Regions from separate parts of the Homo sapiens genome. Here region 2 is linked to region 1. Evidence: fine-mapped expression QTL. A gene starts in region 1. The other region holds a variant in brackets. All regions are shown on one strand. Distances are between the middles of the regions. Region 1 holds the start of RAB8A (RAB8A, member RAS oncogene family). Region 2 holds the start of HSH2D (hematopoietic SH2 domain containing).

What was found. PIP is the estimated chance that this variant, and not a neighbour inherited with it, causes the effect.
Region 2: its variant is fine-mapped to the expression of RAB8A in whole blood (INTERVAL, PIP above 0.99).

Annotation. Positions count from the first base shown.
Region 1 is chr19:16,108,428-16,116,484 of GRCh38, reverse strand. It overlaps RAB8A (RAB8A, member RAS oncogene family), which reads right to left and starts at 4,596. Exons shown (of 8, transcript NM_005370.5): 1 at 4,460-4,596. The coding sequence starts at 4,583. RefSeq lists a silencer at 4,554-5,213.
Region 2 is chr19:16,136,060-16,144,551 of GRCh38, reverse strand. HSH2D (hematopoietic SH2 domain containing) reads right to left here and starts at 867. Exons shown (of 6, transcript NM_001382417.1): 1 at 778-867. It overlaps HSH2D-AS1 (HSH2D and RAB8A antisense RNA 1), which reads left to right and starts at 4,637. Exons shown (of 2, transcript NR_199156.1): 1 at 4,637-4,817. RefSeq lists enhancers at 465-514, 525-604, 745-1,004, 1,085-1,244, 732-1,426 and 2 more. The variant A/G (reference allele first, on the strand shown) is at 3,290.

The sequences.
Region 1 (8,057 bases):
TGTGGAACTCTGTGAATGTACCCAAAGCCACTGAATTGTACACTGCAAATGGGTGAACTGTATGCGAATTCTATCTCATAAAGCTATTTTTTTTTAAAGCCTCTTTCAGTGGCTTCCCTGCCCCACTTCCCTCGAATAAAGTGGAAACAGCTGCTCATGTGTGTCAAGGTCCTGCCTAACCTGGTCACCTCTCAGCACTCTGGCTCATGACCTGCTCTCTCTGGCCACACCATCCACACAGCGATTTCCTCAACATTCCAAGCATGCTCCTGACTCGGGGCTTTGATGTTTGCTCTTCCCTGCCCTGGAAAGTTCTTTCTTCTGTAGCTACCTGGCTATCCCTTTGTTCAGGTTCCCATTCAAGTTCCCTCCTCAGGGGAACCTTTCTGACCATCCTCATCAGTTCTCCCTTTACCTATTTATTAACATAACTGACATACATGTATGTATCTGCTGCATGGACCTGGGCATAATGCTTGCAGATCATAATGGCCCATGTAGATGAGAAACAGCCAGACCCAGCCTTTGCCACCAGGAGTTTGTTCAAGTGCCTGCTGGGGAAGACTTGAGGCCCAGGCCTGGCTGGGCCTCTCTGAACCCAGGGTGGGGATGCTAATTCCATCCATCCAGCCCCAGCACTGGACTTTCGCCCTCTCAAACGTAAGCTCCCTGGGGCAGGGAACTGACAAGTCTCATCCACTGCTATTACCTCCAGTGACTGAACACACAGGGGTTGAATACACATTTGCTAGAAGCTGGTACCCCAGTCCTGCACGCACCTTGACTCACCTGTGTCCTTTCTGCAGCCCTCTTGCCAAAATGGCTGCCTGGCCCACAGAAGACACTGGCAAAATATGGCTGGATCAAAGTATTAAAGCGCAACAGGGTCTACGCGGTGTTGAGCGGTTCACAAAGCACTTTCTCAAATGCCAACCCTTTCACTGGAGGAATCAATGGGCCCCTGAGGAGGCAGTGGCGCCGAGCCAGGCTGGTGAGAACCCATTCCAGGGAGCTACAGGGCCAAGTTCACACCACAAATGATCTATGGGGCTTCTGAGAATAGGCTTTGATGAAATGTAACTTTTGGCAAAATGTTAAGGATTGAGTGGCAGAAAATGAATAGCCACTCAATCCTTGTCTATAAAGAAAACCCAGAGGTACACTCAGCCAATATAGAATTGCTTCTTTTTTTTTTTGGAGACAGAGTTTTGCTCTGTTGCCCAGGCTGGAGTGCACTGGCACAATCTTGGCTCACTGCAACCTCTGCCTCCTGGATTCAAGCGATTCTCCTGCCTCAGCCTCCTGAGTAGCTGGGAATACAGGCAAGCGCCACCACGTATGGCTAATTTATGGAATCACCTTTAAGCATTAAGGTGATACTGCTTCAGGACTAGACAGCCCAGTGTGCCTGGGCTTCCTAAAACATTCCCCATTTCCTGTCACACGTGTACAGGGACACAAAAAATCGAGGAGCACTGTTAGGTTGGCCAAGCTCCACAGCAGCACTCCGCCCTACACTCCTCTGGGTTTTATTAACATGCCAAATTTAATTAGGAAGTGTAAACTTTATGAGGCCTAAGAATTATGAGGTCTGACCTTCAAGGTCATGGTGAATTAGACTTTCCTAGAAGACAGAAGGCTACAAATGGAAGGAGGGGAATGAAGGGGTGGGAGGGAGGGATCTTAGGGTCAGGTGCCACCTCCACCTTGCTAGGTAACTTTCACCAAGTCACATCCTCATCTGCAAATGGAAGAAAGCCTCTTTAAAGCTCAAAGTAACTCTAAAGAGGGGGGTTGGGCTGGGCGCGGTGGCTCATGCTTGTAATCCCAGCACTTTGGGAGGCCAAGGTGGGCGGTCACGAGGTCAGGAGTTCGAGACCAGCCTGGCCAACATGGTGAAACCCCATCTCTACTAAAAAAAAAAAAAAAAAAATACAAAAATTAGCTGGGCATGGTGGCAGGTGCTTGTAATCCCAGCTACTTGGGAGGCTGAGACAGGAGAATCGCTGGAACCTGGGAGGTGGAAGTTGCAGTGAGCCGAGATCGCGCCACTGCACTCCAGACTGGGTGACAAAGAGAGACTGTCTCAAAAAAAAAAAAAAAAAAAGAGGGGGGTTTGTGGGGAAGGCTGGGAAACTGGGATCTGAGTGAATGCAAGCCAGTCTGCTCACAGTTAACATCATTTCTTTCTTTCTTTTATTTTTATTATTATTTTTTAAGACAGGGTCTCGCTCTGTTGCCCAGGCTGGAGTGCAGTGACACCATCACAGCTCACTGCACCTTGACCTCCTGGGCTCAATCGATCCTCCCACCTTGGCCTCCCAAGTGGCTGGGTCTACATGGGTGAGCCACTGTGCCCGGCTGATTTTATTTTATTTTTTGTAGAGATGGGGTTTGCCATGTTGCCCAGGCTGAATTAACGCCACTTCTTGATTGGTTGGAGCACAAGAATTACCCTAAAGTTTAGCCTTGGAGTGGGGGAGGGGGAAGAATTCAGAAACATCTGTCTTCAGAGGCTGGATGCTGTCACTGCAGGAGCCATTCATTTGCTTCCTCTAGATAGCCTCTGGTTGTGGTGACAACCCCTTATTGTCTAATTCTAATCCTCAACCACCAGGGCACTAGGCTGGGCAGACAGTGTCACTCCTGCTCTAAAGACAGCAGGGCTCAGAGAGGGGTAGTGCACATTCAAGGGCAAACAGCAACTGGAAACCAGACGTAATGATTTCCAGTCAATTCTCTCTATTTTACATCTGGCATATAACTGTTTTATAAAGCACAGCTCCGCTGGGTGCGGTGGCTCATGCTTGTAATCCCAGCACTTTGGGATGCCAAGGCAGGCAGATCACAAGGTCAGGAGTTCGAGACCAGCCTGACCAACACAGTGAAACCCTGTATTTACTAAAAATACAAAAATTAGCTGGACGTGGTGGCGGGTGCCTATAATCCCAGCTACTAGGGAGGCTGAGGCAGGAGAATTGCTTGAACCCGGGAGGCAGAGGTTGTAGTGACCCGAGATCCTGCCGCTGGATTCCAGCCTGGGCAAAAGAGCTAGACTCCGTCTCAAAAAATAAAATAAAATAAAATAAATAAAGCATAGCTCCTGGAGGAGGGCAAGAATGGAATTAGCACATTATCTTGGGGTTCAGGGAGATAACACGATTCTGTCAAAGTGACACAGTAAAGCAAAGGCCATTCCCTAGGTTTTCTTGAGTCGGAATAAACTCCTGGACTTAGTGACCGTTCCCCCACTTTCCCCATCCCTAGCAGGGCTACAGAGCTCACAAGCCACTCAAATAGGTGTTACTCCTGGGTCAAACCTTTTCATTGTGGGCCAGGACTGCTTTTGTGGCACTGAGAGAGGTCAGCTCCACTTCTGTGGACATCACAACTGAGATGCACCAAGCCAATTCTGTTCAACCACAATGTGGGCTGGCCCTACAGGAAAAGCTGTTCTAAAGTGACAGCTGGAGTCTTGGGCCCTTTGATAGGGAAGTCAAGGCTGTCTGTGGCAGTGGCTGATTTAGTTTCTCGCTGAGGCTTTTATCTTGCATCTTCTTGGGGATGACAGGTCCCAGGGCAGGCAGTGCTGTCACTTGCCATTGCTGTCATTCCTGGAGCAGGATGAAAGGTGGGCAGGGAAAAGGTCCTGACTCTTCTTATCATTCCTTCTAGAGGAAAATACGCTTATGAGGGGAAGCATGGTCAGGGAGAGGGGCTCAACCTCTGAACGCTCCAGAGAAAAGAGCAGGAATGGTGTGGGTTAGAGTCCCGGCTCCAAGGTGCATTAGCTGAGCTTGTCATCAGCTGGGAGTGTGCAGTGGCATCTCTCTAGGAGAGCTAAGCCTCGAGTTTTGGGTTGAGACACAGCCAGGTTCAAATTCCATCAAATCCCATTCTCACCACGTGCAGACTGTGTGGCCTTGGGCAAGTTCCATGCCCTCCCTGAGCCTCAGATTCCTCATCTTGTCAGACGGGCTCATAACAGCACTTAACACCAAGAACTGAAGAGTGTGAAAATGCACGTGAAGCACTTGGCACATAGTAAATGCTCATTAAGGTGAGATGCCACTGTCTTTTTCCCATGGCCAATTCCCCATGACTCAGTTTCCACTTCTGTAAGGCAAGAGCCTCAAAAGAACCGCTTCGAGGGCTGCTGCTAGGACAGATCGAGAGGACGGGCGCGAAGACCCCAGCCCAAGACATAACACGCCCTAACGAGCGGGCTGAGGGTCGGAGCCTCAGTCTCCCTATCTGCAAAATGGGCACCTGGTCTCCCCCACCACGGCCCAGGAACCCCCGAACGGCGGTGCAGGCGACTGCTCTTCTCCCTTTAGGCCCCCTCGACCCTCTCAGCGCCCTCGGCCCGTCCAGCCCTGTAGATCCCTCAGCCCCAGCCCCTCAGGGGCGCGCCCAGCCCGGGCCTCCGGCGCCCCCAGCCATTCCCCGGTCCCGTTACCTATGGTGGAGATAAAAGTGGAGTTGAAGGCGTCCTCGGAGAAGCGGAACAGGACACAGGTCTTCCCCACCCCCGAGTCCCCGATCAGCAGCAGCTTGAACAGGTAATCGTAGGTCTTCGCCATATTACACTCTCTCCCCGACGGGAAGTGCGGCCAGCGCCTCTCCACTGGCCACCAGCACCGTCCATCAGCACCGAGCCCGCCCCTTATTGGCTCCAGGCCCGCTGCGCGTCACCGCGGCCGACGCCCGCCCCTGCGTCCCGCCAGTCGCGGGGAGACCTTGGGAGGGGGCGAGCGGAGCGCGGAGCCGGAAGCAGCCCGAGCGCACCTCCCATTGGCCGGCACTAGGGAGAGCACGGGCTCTGATTGACCAGCAGTGAAGAGTCGCGGGGCTTCAAATGGGGACGAGGCGGGGGCGTGGCATTATGTGGCCCCCGCCTTCCACCCCCGACTCGGGCGGCCCGGCCCCGCCCCACTGTAGGAGAGGGAAGGCAGGGAGCGGCGCCAACCGCTCGCGCGCCGGCAGCCTGGCGGGGCGTGGCTTGGGGTGCGTGCGCACGCGCGCCCGGAGTTCCGTTAGGCGACAGCAGAGGGCGCACGCCAGTAGTTGGGGCGGGTGTCTCTGGGTCCCGCCCTCACAGCTCGCGCAGGCGCAGTAGGCACCGAGGCGAGCGCGGGAAAGCAAGGTAGCGCTCTCAGCCTTGTCTGCGGCCTGCGAGTCGGGGCAGTGGGGGCCTAGGGAGGAAGGAGAGAGGAGGAGCTGTATACTCGAAAAGTGACCCAAGCCGGACGCGGTGGTTCACGCCTTTAATTCCCACACTTTGGGAAGCCGAGGCGCGTGGATCACGAGGTCAGGAGTTCAAGACCAGCCTGGCCAAGATGGTGAAACCCCGTTTCTACTAAAAATACAAAAATTAGCCGGGCGTGGTGGCGGGCGCCTGTAATCCCAGCCACTCGGGAGGCTGAGGCAGAGAATTGCTTGAATCTGGGAGGCGGAGCTTGCAGTGAGCCGAGATCGCGCCATTGCACTGCAGCGTGGGCGACAGAGAGAGACTCCGTCTCAAAAAAAATAAATAAAAGTGACCCAAGACGAGCTCCGAGGTCTGCGGCCTAGCGATCTGCTTAGAGATACCCAAGGCCTCCGCCATCTGAGCGGCTTCACCGCCACAAGCTGTGCCCGGAAGCGCGCGCCGGCCTCCTCAGGGCCCGCCCTCGGCCACCTTAGGGGTTGTCCGGGCCAGCCCGGGGATGGTGGGGGGGGAGGGGTTAGAGCAGTGAGGATGCTGGGTCCTATCTAGGGGCCAGGGCTCTCAACGTTGAAAAAACTGGCCGGGGCGTTGGCTCCCGTCTGTGATCCCAGTGCTTTGGGAAGCCAGGAGGTTGAGGGTGCAGTAAGCCGTGATCGCCCCACTGCAATTCGGCCTGGGCGACAGAGCAAGACCCTATCAAAAGAAAAAAAGGCTGGGCGCGGTGGCTCAGGCCTGTAATCCCGCACTTTGGGAGGCCGAGGCGGGCGGATCAGGAGGTCAGGAGATCGAGACCATCCTGGCTAACGCGGTGAAACCCCGTCTCTACTAAAAACACAAAAAATTACCCGGGAGTAGTGGCGGGCGCCTGTAGTCCCAGCTACTCGGGAGGCTGAGGCAGGAGAATGGTGTGAACCCGGGAGGCGGAGCCTGCAGTGAACCGAGATCGCGCCACTGCACTCCAGTCTGGGCGACAGAATGAGACTACGTCTCAAAAAAAAAAAAAAAAAAAAAAAGAAAGAGAAAAACAGAGGAGAGATACATTTGGAAAATCGGGCTTGCAGCTGGGTGTGGTGGCTCAGGCCTGTAATCCCAGCACTTTGGGAGTCAGCACTTTGGGAGGCAGGAGGATTGCTTGAGCTTAGGAGGTCAAGACCAGCCCGGACAAGATAGGGAGATCCCCATCTCTACAACAAATAAAATTAGCTGGGCGTCATGGTGCACGCTTGTAATCCCAGCACTTTGGGAGGCTGAGGTGGAGGTTCATTGGAGGCCAGGAGGTGGAGACCAGCCTGGGCAACATAGCAAGACCTCCATCTCTGCAAAAAAAAAAAAGTTTTTTGGCCAGGCGAGGTGGTTCACACCTGTAATCCCAGCACTTTGGGAGGCCAAGGCAGGTGGATCACCTGAGGTCAGGAGTTCCAGACCAGCCTGGCCAACATGGTAAAACACCATCTCTGCTAAAAATACAGAAACTAGGCAGGTGTGGTCATGTGCGCCTGTAGTCCCAGCTACTCAGGCGGCTGAGGCACCAGAATTGCTTGAATCTGGGAGGCGGAGGTTGCAGTGAGCCGAGATTGTGTCACTGCATTCCAGCCTGGGTGACAGAGCAAGGCTCCATCTCAAAAAACAAAAAATTTTTTTAAAAAATTAGCCAGGTATGGTGGTGTATGCTTGTAGTCCCAGCTACTCAGGAGGCTAAGGTGGGAGGATCCCTTGAGCCCAGGAGGTCAAGGCAGCAGTGAGCTGTGATCGCACCATTGCACTCCAGCCTGGGCGACGGAGCAAGACCCTGACTTTTTTTTTTTTCTGAGATGGAGTCTCTCACGGTCACCAGGGCTGGAGTGCAATGGCGCGATCTTGGCTCACTGCAACCTCTGCCTCCCGGGTTCAGGCGATTCTCCTGCCTCAGCCTCCCAAGTAGCTTGGATTCCAGGCACCCACCACCACGCCTGGTGTGGTGTATTTTTTTGTATTTTTAGTAGAGATGGGGTTTCACTGTGTTGGCCAGGCTGGTCTCGAACTCCTGACCTCGTGATCCGCCTGCCTCCACCTCCCAAAGTACTGGGATTACAGGCGTGAGCCCCTGCACCCGGCCCCTGACTCTTAAAATTTTAATCCCAGTACCAGCCCAGCAAAACGATGTTATTGTTTTTTTCCTGTTTAATGGTGAGAAAACTGAAGCCAGAGGAGGTTAAGTGACTTTTCCCCCTTCCTGCTTAAAAGTGGGAATTTGGTATCTGAACTCAGAGTGCCAAGCTTCCCAGGCCGCAGTTTGATCACTAGGGCTCCCTGCTTCTTAGAGATGGTCCAGTCTGTTCTAGGTCACTCTGGGGCCTCCGGGGCCTTGAGGCTTACTTAAGGATCTGTGGAAGGAGGGCCCAGCCTTTCCTCCTCCCTTCCACTTCAGCTCATTCTTCTGCTAATCTAGCTCTGGTTAAAAAAGCTTCAACCAGAGGCATTGACCACCTACAGGCCTCAGCCTCTGTGGTATTTGATAGTCTTGATCACCTCTGAATATTCTTTTTTCTTGGTATTATCCTCATTTATTTACTTATTTTTGAGACAGGGTCTTGTTCTGTGGCCCAGGCTGGAGAGCAATGGTGTGATTTCACTCACTGCAACCTCCGCCTCCCAGGCTCCAGTGATTCTCCCACCTCAGCCTCCAGAGTAGCTGGAACTACTGGCATGCACCACCACGCATGGCTAATTTTTATTTTTTGTAGAGATGGGGTCTTGCTATGTTACCCAGGCTGGTCTGGAATTCCTGGGCTCAAGCCATCCTCCCACCTCAGCCTCCCAAGTAGCTGGGACTACATCTGCACGCTACTATGGCAGGCTAATTTTTTTA
Region 2 (8,492 bases), 28 kb before region 1:
ACCTAGGAAAGTTTAGCTAGCACTGTGTATATATAGAGATATATATACAATATTCATGAATCCAGTTGTGACCTATCATGGGGTAATGTTTACAGGCTTATTCTTTTTTTTTACTTGGAAGAGCTCCTATTTATCCTTCAAAACCCAGTAAAAATGTCCCCTCCTCCAGGCAGCTTTCCTGCATCTCCCCCCAGACAACACCCTGGCACCCCTCTCTGTCCCCAACGTTCCCCCCTGTTCCTCTCTCTGGTCCAGCCATGACTCCATGGAGCTAGAGTGTCTTTATCTTGCTCTGTCTCCACCAGCCTGAGGGCCTCCTAGGGATCAGGGCTTAGGGCTAGGTTCCTGTGTTGTTGTTTTTTTCTGTGTCCTGGTGCTGGCCTGGCACAGAGGAGGGTGCAAGGGTCTTTGCTGGTGAACAGCTATCTAGTGATGAAAGACCGCATGCTCAAATTCAAGCTCCTGACCCTGGCCTGGGAGCCTCCTCTACTTCCCCGCTACCCACATTCTAGACCTAAAGACATCCTTGCTCTCTCTCTCTTGCCTCTCCATACCTTTGCTCATGCTGTTGTCTTGCCAAGACCCCCTTTTCCCTAACTCCAGCTCCATTTTCCATTTGTGGTCACCACAAATACCCCCTCCTCCACGAAGCTCTCCCCCATGCCCCTAGAAAATCCCTCCTGCCACCCCAGGCCCCACTAGCCCTGTCCCTCCTTCTGGCCTAGCCCAGCCCCCACGTTCTGTCTCCTCGAGGGCTGAGGCTCTTGGGTCACATACCTGGGAGACCCTTGGATGGCCGAGGCCCTCGCTGTAGCTGTGCCAGTGCCTGCAGGAGCCTGGGTTTCGATTCAAGGTCTGCACGTCAATGGGGCGGGGCTGGCTGCCCCGAGGCAGTTCCTGTTTCCTCAAGCAGGTGAGCCCTGGGGGCGGAACAAGGACAGCTCAAGTCACCCTGTCTGCAGTCCAACAAAGCATCTGGTGCCACAGGTGCAGAGACAGCTTGCTCCTGTCTTGCCCCCAGCAAGTTGTTATTGAGCACCTACTGTGTGCCTGCTGTTTGGAGGACACAGGGGTGACACGGAGACAGGTGCAGGCCCCCTGACTCCTGGCATCTATAATCTATCAAGCAGTGAAGAGGAGTGAGACATCATTACAAAGGGAGAACGGGGAACGGGTGCGGTGGCTCACACCTGCAATCCCAGCACTTTGACAGGCTGAGGCAGGCGGATCACTTGAGGTCAGGAGTTTGAGACCAGCCTGGCAAACATGGCAAAACCCCGTCTCTATTAAAATACGAAAATCAGCCGGGTGTGGCGGCGCACGCCTGTAATCCCAGCTACTCAGGAGGCTGAGGCACAAGAATTGCTTGAACCCGGGAGGCGGAGGTTGCAGTGAGCAGAGATCGCACCATTGCACTCCAGCCTGGGCAACGGAGTGAGACTCCTTCTCAAAACAAAAACAAAAGCAACAAAGGGGGAACAGAAACTGGGCGCGGTGGCTCACGCCTGTAATCCCAGCACTTTGGGAGGCCGAGGCGGGTGGATCATTTGAGGCCAGGAGTTTGAGACCAGGCTGGCCAACATGGTAAAACCCTGTCTCTACTAAAAATACAAAAATTAGGCGTGGTGGCGGGTGCCTGTAATCCCAGCTACTCAGGAGGCTGATGCAAGAGAATCGCTTGGACCAGGGACGCAGAGGCTGCAGTGAGCCGAGATCACGCCACTGCACTTTAGCCTGGATGACAGAGGGAAATTCTGTCCCCCGCAAAACAAACAAACAAAAAAACACCAGCTGGGTGCGGTGGCTCATGCCTGTAATCCCAGCACTTTGGGAGGCCAAGGTGGGCAGATCATTTGAGGTCAGGAGTTCGCGACCAGCCTGACCAACATGGAGAAATCCCGTCTCTACTAAAACTGCAAAATTAGCCCGGCGTGGTGACACATGCCTGTAATCCCAGCTATTTGGGAGGCTGAGGCAGGAGAATCGCTTGAACCCGGGAGGTGGAGGTTGCGGTTTGCTGAGATCTCACCACTGCACTCCAGCCTGGGCAGCGAGAGTGTAACTCCGTCTCAAACAAAACAAAACCAACGAAAACCAAACAAAACAAAACAAAAAAACAAAAAACCCCAAACAAACAAAAAAATCCAAAGGGGAAACAGGAAGTGGGAACAGCAGTTGCACAAACCCACAGAGGTGACCTAACTGACGTGAAGGAAGGGGCATTTGAGGGTGAGAAGGAATCATCTTGATTTGGGGAGTGCGTAGTGCAGAAAGAGTATATTTTTTTGTAGAGATGGGGTCTTGCTATATTGCCCAGGCTGGGGGAGGGAAGAGCAGGCACAAAGGCCTTGAAACTGAATTGAGCCTGGACAGGCTGGGGTCTCATGGCACGCATAGGTCCACACCAGGACTTCCTCCATTATAAAATATTTTAAAATATTTTTATTAATTGACTAACCTATTTTAGAGACAGAGTTTCACTCTGTCACTCAGGCTGGAGTGCAGTGGTATGATCATAGCTCACTGCAGTCTTGAACTGCTGGACTCAAGTGATCCTCCTGCCTCAGGCTCCCAAGTAGCTGGGACTACAGGCACACACCACCACACCTGACTAATTAAAAAAATATTTTTTTTGGAGATGGGATCTTGCTGTGTTGCCCAGGCTGGTCTCAAACTCCTGGGGCTCAAGCGATCCGCCCACCTTGGTTCAAGTGACTCTCCTGCCTCAGCCTCCTGAGTAGCTGGGATTAGAGGTGCCCACCAACACGCCTGGCTAATGTTTGTATTTTTAGTAGAGACAAGGTTTCACTATGTTGGCCAGGCTGGTCTCAAACTCCTGACCTCAGGTGATCCACCCGCCTCAGCCTCCCAAAGTGCTGGGATTACAGGTGTGGGCCGCCGTGCCAGCTTAAAATTCTATTTTACAACTGTGTTGGCATTAAGACCGATGTGGTCCAGGCTGGATTCCTTATTGTATATTTATTATTAGGATGTTCAGTTTTTTTTCTTCTGATTTTAAATAAGCTGAAGCCCTTTGGGAAGTCCCACACAGCACTTGGGTCCTGGGTGCAGGCCCTGTGTGCCTAACAGATTGGCCAGCTCTGGCCGTGTGCTCGTACCCCAGGCAGACAAACAAAACTACTTCCTCCTCTCCTTTCAGGCAGAAAGGGCCCAGATCCTACTGGGGGCCTCCCCAAGGGCCTATTGCCCTGGCCCAGCTGGGCTAGATAACCCCAGGCTCACCCTGGGTGCCTCTCTCACCCCCCTGCTCCTCCTCGGCAACAGCAGC[A/G]CCTCGTCTGCCCTCTGTGGTCAACAAGGTCTAAGCAGGAGACACGTGGAGCCCTGCTTCTCACTCACCTGCTGTGTGTCCTAAGGTGAGTTGCTCAGCCTCTCTGAGCCTCAGTTCTGCATCTGTGCAATGGGCATAATAGCCCTCCTTAATCATGTGAAGATGCTAGGAGAGGCAACTCTCCAGCACAGCACATGGAGATGAGTTGGGAGTGAGAGAATCAGGACTCTTTGTTGTGACTTAATTCAAGCAAGGCCTTTGTGTTTGCCTGGGGGAGACTCTGGCTTGGGCCTCAGACCTCATGGGCTGAGCTGCCTTGGGCAACTCACTTCACCTCTCTGTGGCTAATCTCTTTTTCTTCTTCTTTTTTTTTTGAGTAGGGTCCCCTCACTCTGTTGCCCAGGCTGGAGTGCAGTGGTGCAGTCTCAGCTCACCACAGCCTCTACTTCCTGGGCTCAAGTGATCCTCCCATCTCAGCCTCCTGAGTAGCTGGGACTACAGGAGCACCACCACCACGCCTGGCTAATTTTTGGATTTTTGAAGAGATGGGGTTTTGTCATGTTGCCAGGTTGGTCTCGTTCAAGTGATCCTCCCGCCTCAGCCTCCCAAAGTGTTAGGATTACAGGTGTCAGCTGCTGCATCTGGCCTTTTTATTTTTGAGATGATGTCTTGTTCTATCGCCCCGGCTGGAGTACAGTGGTGCGATCTTGGCTCACTGCAACCTCCACCTCCCGGGTTCAAGCGATTCTCCTGCCTCAGTCTCCCCAGTAGCTGAGATTATAAGTGTGCACCACCACTCCTGGCTAATTTTTATATTTTTAGTAGAGACAGGGTTTCACCATGTTGGCCAGGTTGGTCTTGAACTCCTGACCTCAAGTGGTCTGCCCACCTTGGCCTCCCAAAGTGCTGGGATTATAGGCCTGAAGTATTTATTTATTTATTTTTATTTTTTATTTTTTTGAGACAGGATCTTGTTCTGTTGCCCAGGCTGGAGTGCAGTGGTGCAAGTACAACTCACTGCAGCCTCAAACTCCTGGCCTCAAGCGATCTACCTGCCTGGACTTCCCAAAGTGCTGGCATTACAGGCATGAGCCACCGGGCCTGGCCTTCACTTCACTTCACTTCTCTGATCCTCCTGGGAAAGTCTGACCATCGGGGCTCTTATTTGCATGGGGTTTAGAGTTTCCAGGAACATGGGGGTACGCTGGCCCAGCTCTAGCACAGTCCCCTAAGACCTCACCACAAACGGCCCAACCTCGCTTCCCCTGACCTGCTTGGGTGATGTGGTCTCCCACAAACTAACGTCTTCCTTTCAGATGTCGCAACAGAATCACCCCCACACCCCTCAGTGTCCGCAGGCCTCGGCCCGCAAACGGACATGCGTCCCCCAGAGGAAGGAAGGGTGTGGAGGGGAAAACGAAGGTGCCCTGATGGGGAGATAACGGGGCTAGAATTCCAAGGCCCCCTCTCTCTGATACCAGGTTCTCCAGGGAGACAGATCTGGGCTTCTCAGCAGAGGCCGCAGCTGGTAAGTGGGCCATTCACAGATTCACGTGGGGTGGCTCTTGGGGGAGGTGGCCACAATGCCATCTTAGTGCTGGGAAAATGCTGGGCCCATACATGTCAGGGAGTGGGGAAGCCCTTAGGCTCTGCCAACACTGGGTTTGATGCGATTCTTTTTAGAGACAAGGTCTCACTCTGTTGCCCAGGCTGAAGTGCACTGTGCCATCATAGCTCCCTGCAACCTCAAACTCCCGGGCTCAAGTGATCCTCCCGCCTCAGCCTCCCAAGTAGCTGCAATCACAAGCTCACACCACCATGCCCGGTTAATTTTTCAATTTTTATTTTGTAGACAGGGTCTTGCTGTGTTGCCCAGGATGGTCTAGAACGCCTGAGCTCAAGCAATCCTCACACCCCAGCCTCCCAGTGTTGGGATTATAGGCATGAGCCACTGTGCCCAACCCTGGACTTGATGTAATTTTATGATTTTAGCTTCCTACAATGCCTTCATTCTATTCATTCATTGATTTCACAAACACTGGCTGAGCCCCAGCTCTGGATGGGCACCATGCTAGATGCTGCAGATGAAGCAGAAGGCAAGATCGGGCCGGGTGCTGTGGCTTATGCCTGTAATCCCAGCTCTTCGGGAGGCCGAGGTGGGCAGATCACCTGAGGTCAGGAGTTCAAGACCAGCCTGGCCAACATGGGGAAACCCTGTCTATACTAAAAACACAAAAATTAGTTGGGCGTAGTGGCTCATGCCTGTAATCCCAGATACTCAGGAGGCTGAGGCAGAAGAATTGCTTGAACTGGGAGATGGAGGTTGCAGTGAGCTGAGATCATGCCACTGCACTCCAGCCTGGGTCACAGAGTGAGACTGTGTCTCAAAAAAAAAAGGCAAGATTGGCATGGTCCCCACCCTTCTAGGGCCCACAGTCTATGAGGAGACAGATGCTGAATGAGTTCACATGCAGGACAGTCAGGCAGAAAAGAAAATAGCAAGGGCAGGCTGGGTGCGGTGGCTCAAACCTGTAATCCCAGCACTTTGGGAGACTGAGGCAGGCAGATCATGAAGTCAAGGGATCGAGACCAGCCTGGCCAACATGGTGAAACCCTGTCTCTACCAAAAATACAAAAATTAGCTGGGCATGGTGGCGCACGCCTGTAGTCCCAGCTACTCGGGAGGCTGAGGCAGAAGAATCGCTTGAACCCGGGAGGCGGAGGGTGCAGTGAGCTGAGATCTTGCCACTGCACTCCAGCCTGGGCAACAGAGCGAGACTCCATCTCAAACAAACAAACAAAATCAGCACGGGCAAAGGCCCTGTGGTAGGAAAGAACTTGGTATGTCTGAGGCACAGATGATGACAGCTAAGGTGTCCAAACGGTGGAAACAACCCAAATGTCCATGAATGAATGAATGGGTAAACAAAACGTGGTTCCATCATCCACACCATGAAATATGATTCAGCCACAGAAAGGAAGGAAGCACTGCTCCATGCTACAATGTGGATGAGCCCCAAAAACATGATGCTGAGAGAAGCCAGACACAAAGGCCACCTAGTGCATGATTCCATTGATATGAAATGTCCAGAACTGGCTGGACACGGTGGCTCACACCTGTAATTCTAGCACTTTGGGAGGCCAAGGTGGGTGGATCACCTGAGGTCAAGAGTTTGAGACTAGCCTGGCCAACATGGTGAAACTCCATCTCTACTAAAAATACAAAAATTAGCCAGGCGTGGTGGCGGGACCTGTAATCCCAGCTACTCGGGAGGCTGAGGCATGAGAATTGCTTGAACCCAGGAGGCAGAAGTTGCAGTGAGCCAAGATTGCACCACTGCACTTTTCTTGGGGAACAAGATGAACAATGGTGGTCATAGTAATAACAGGGTGGGTGTGGTGGCTCACACCTGTAATCCCAACACTTTGGGAGGCTGAGGTGGGAGGATCACTTGAGGCCAGTTCAAGACCAGCCTGGGCAGTGAGACACCATCTCTACAAAAAAGTAAAACAATTAGTTGGGTGTGGTGGTATGCACCTGTAGTACCAGCTACTTGGGAGGCTAAGGCAGGAGGATCACTTGAGCCTGGGAGGTTGAGGCTGCAGTGAGCCATGATCCCACCACTGCACTCCAGCCTGGGCAACAGAGCAAGACCCTGCTTCTTTTTTTCTTTTTTTTTTTTTTTGAGACGGAGTCTCGCTCTGTTGCCCAGGCTGGAGTGCAGTGGCATGATCTAGGTTCATTGCAACCTCCGCCTCCCTGGTTCAAGTGATTTCTGGCTAATTTTTGTATTTTTAGTAGAGACGGGGTTTCACCATATTGGCCAGGCTGGTCTCGAACTCCTGACCTCAAGTGATCCACCCACGTCGGCCTCCCAAAGTGCTGGGATTATAGGTGTGAGCTACCGCGCCCGGCCGGATGACCCTGCTTTAAAATAATGATAATGATGATGATGACAGTGATGAGGACAGTGATGATGCTGATATCAGCCTATTCTGTCTCTGTGCTCATTATGTATGTACCTGTGCCTCCTCTGGGATCCATCATCTCCCTGGCTCTTCATAGCCATCCTATGAGGTGGAAACTATGATCCCCCCTATTTTGCAAGAGAGGAAACTAAGTTCAGTTGTTGAGGGCATGTGTCCAAGGCTGTGCCATTGAAACGGCCTCATCTGGGGTAGATACCCGAGATTTGTCATCTCATGGCCATGGAGAACAAGGACGTGGACACACAAGAGTGAGGTTAAGAGAAGCTTAATAGGCAAAAGAAAGAGAAGAGTTCCCTCCTGCAGAGAGAGGTCCTGAAAAAATGCATTGACAGATGCACAGTGAAATGCAGGGGATTTTATAGATGCCTGGTGAGGAGGCAGTGTTTGATTTACATAAGGCGTGAAAGATTGGTTGGACTAGGTGTTATATTTGCATAGGGTGTGAAAAACTGGTTAGGACTAGGTGTGCCATTTGCATCGGGTGTGAATTTCTGGCCACCCCTAATCTTTTATCATGCAAGCGGGTCCTCTGCCTGAGCTGTGCCATGTTGCCCATCCCTTTACTGTACACGTGGTAATAAAAACAGGGAAGATGGAGTCTCCACGTTGGTCTTGCCTGGCACCCAGGCAACTGTTTTCTATTGACGCAGCTGCTGGCATTTCCCCGTGCAAGCTTCTAGCTCGCTTATCTATGTCTGCAGCTCGATTTCTCAGACTGCTTTTTGTTAGAAAAAATAATTTCTTGGGCTGCTTTTTGTTAGAAAAGAAATTCCGCCAAGGACTCTGGTGCCCTCACTATCTGCCTAAATAATTTCTTTCTAGCTCCTCTATCACCGTGGGTCTTGAGTGGTGCTGGGATTCGGGCCCAGGCAGCTCCCTCTTATCCGTGACCCATTAAGGGCTCAGAAGAAAGCCAGGCACAGGATGGGTTCCCAGTCAGGATCTGCTATTCATTGCCATTGGCTGTCACTGTCTCCGAATTTTGCAGTTTTGGACAGAAACTGCAAAGTTTCGTGGAAAGAAAGCAAGTTTCCCAAAGTGGCCATTTATCAGGCATCCGTGGCAGGGGGTGACTTTTGAGTTTTAGTATCAGGATTCAGGGTCCTCCTGAGTGCGTGCTCGGAGGCTCAAGGATAGAGATGACAGAGATTTTGATGGGAGCTAAGCCAGGGACCACCAGGGCAGGCCTCTAGCATGGTCAGGTGGGAAGGGA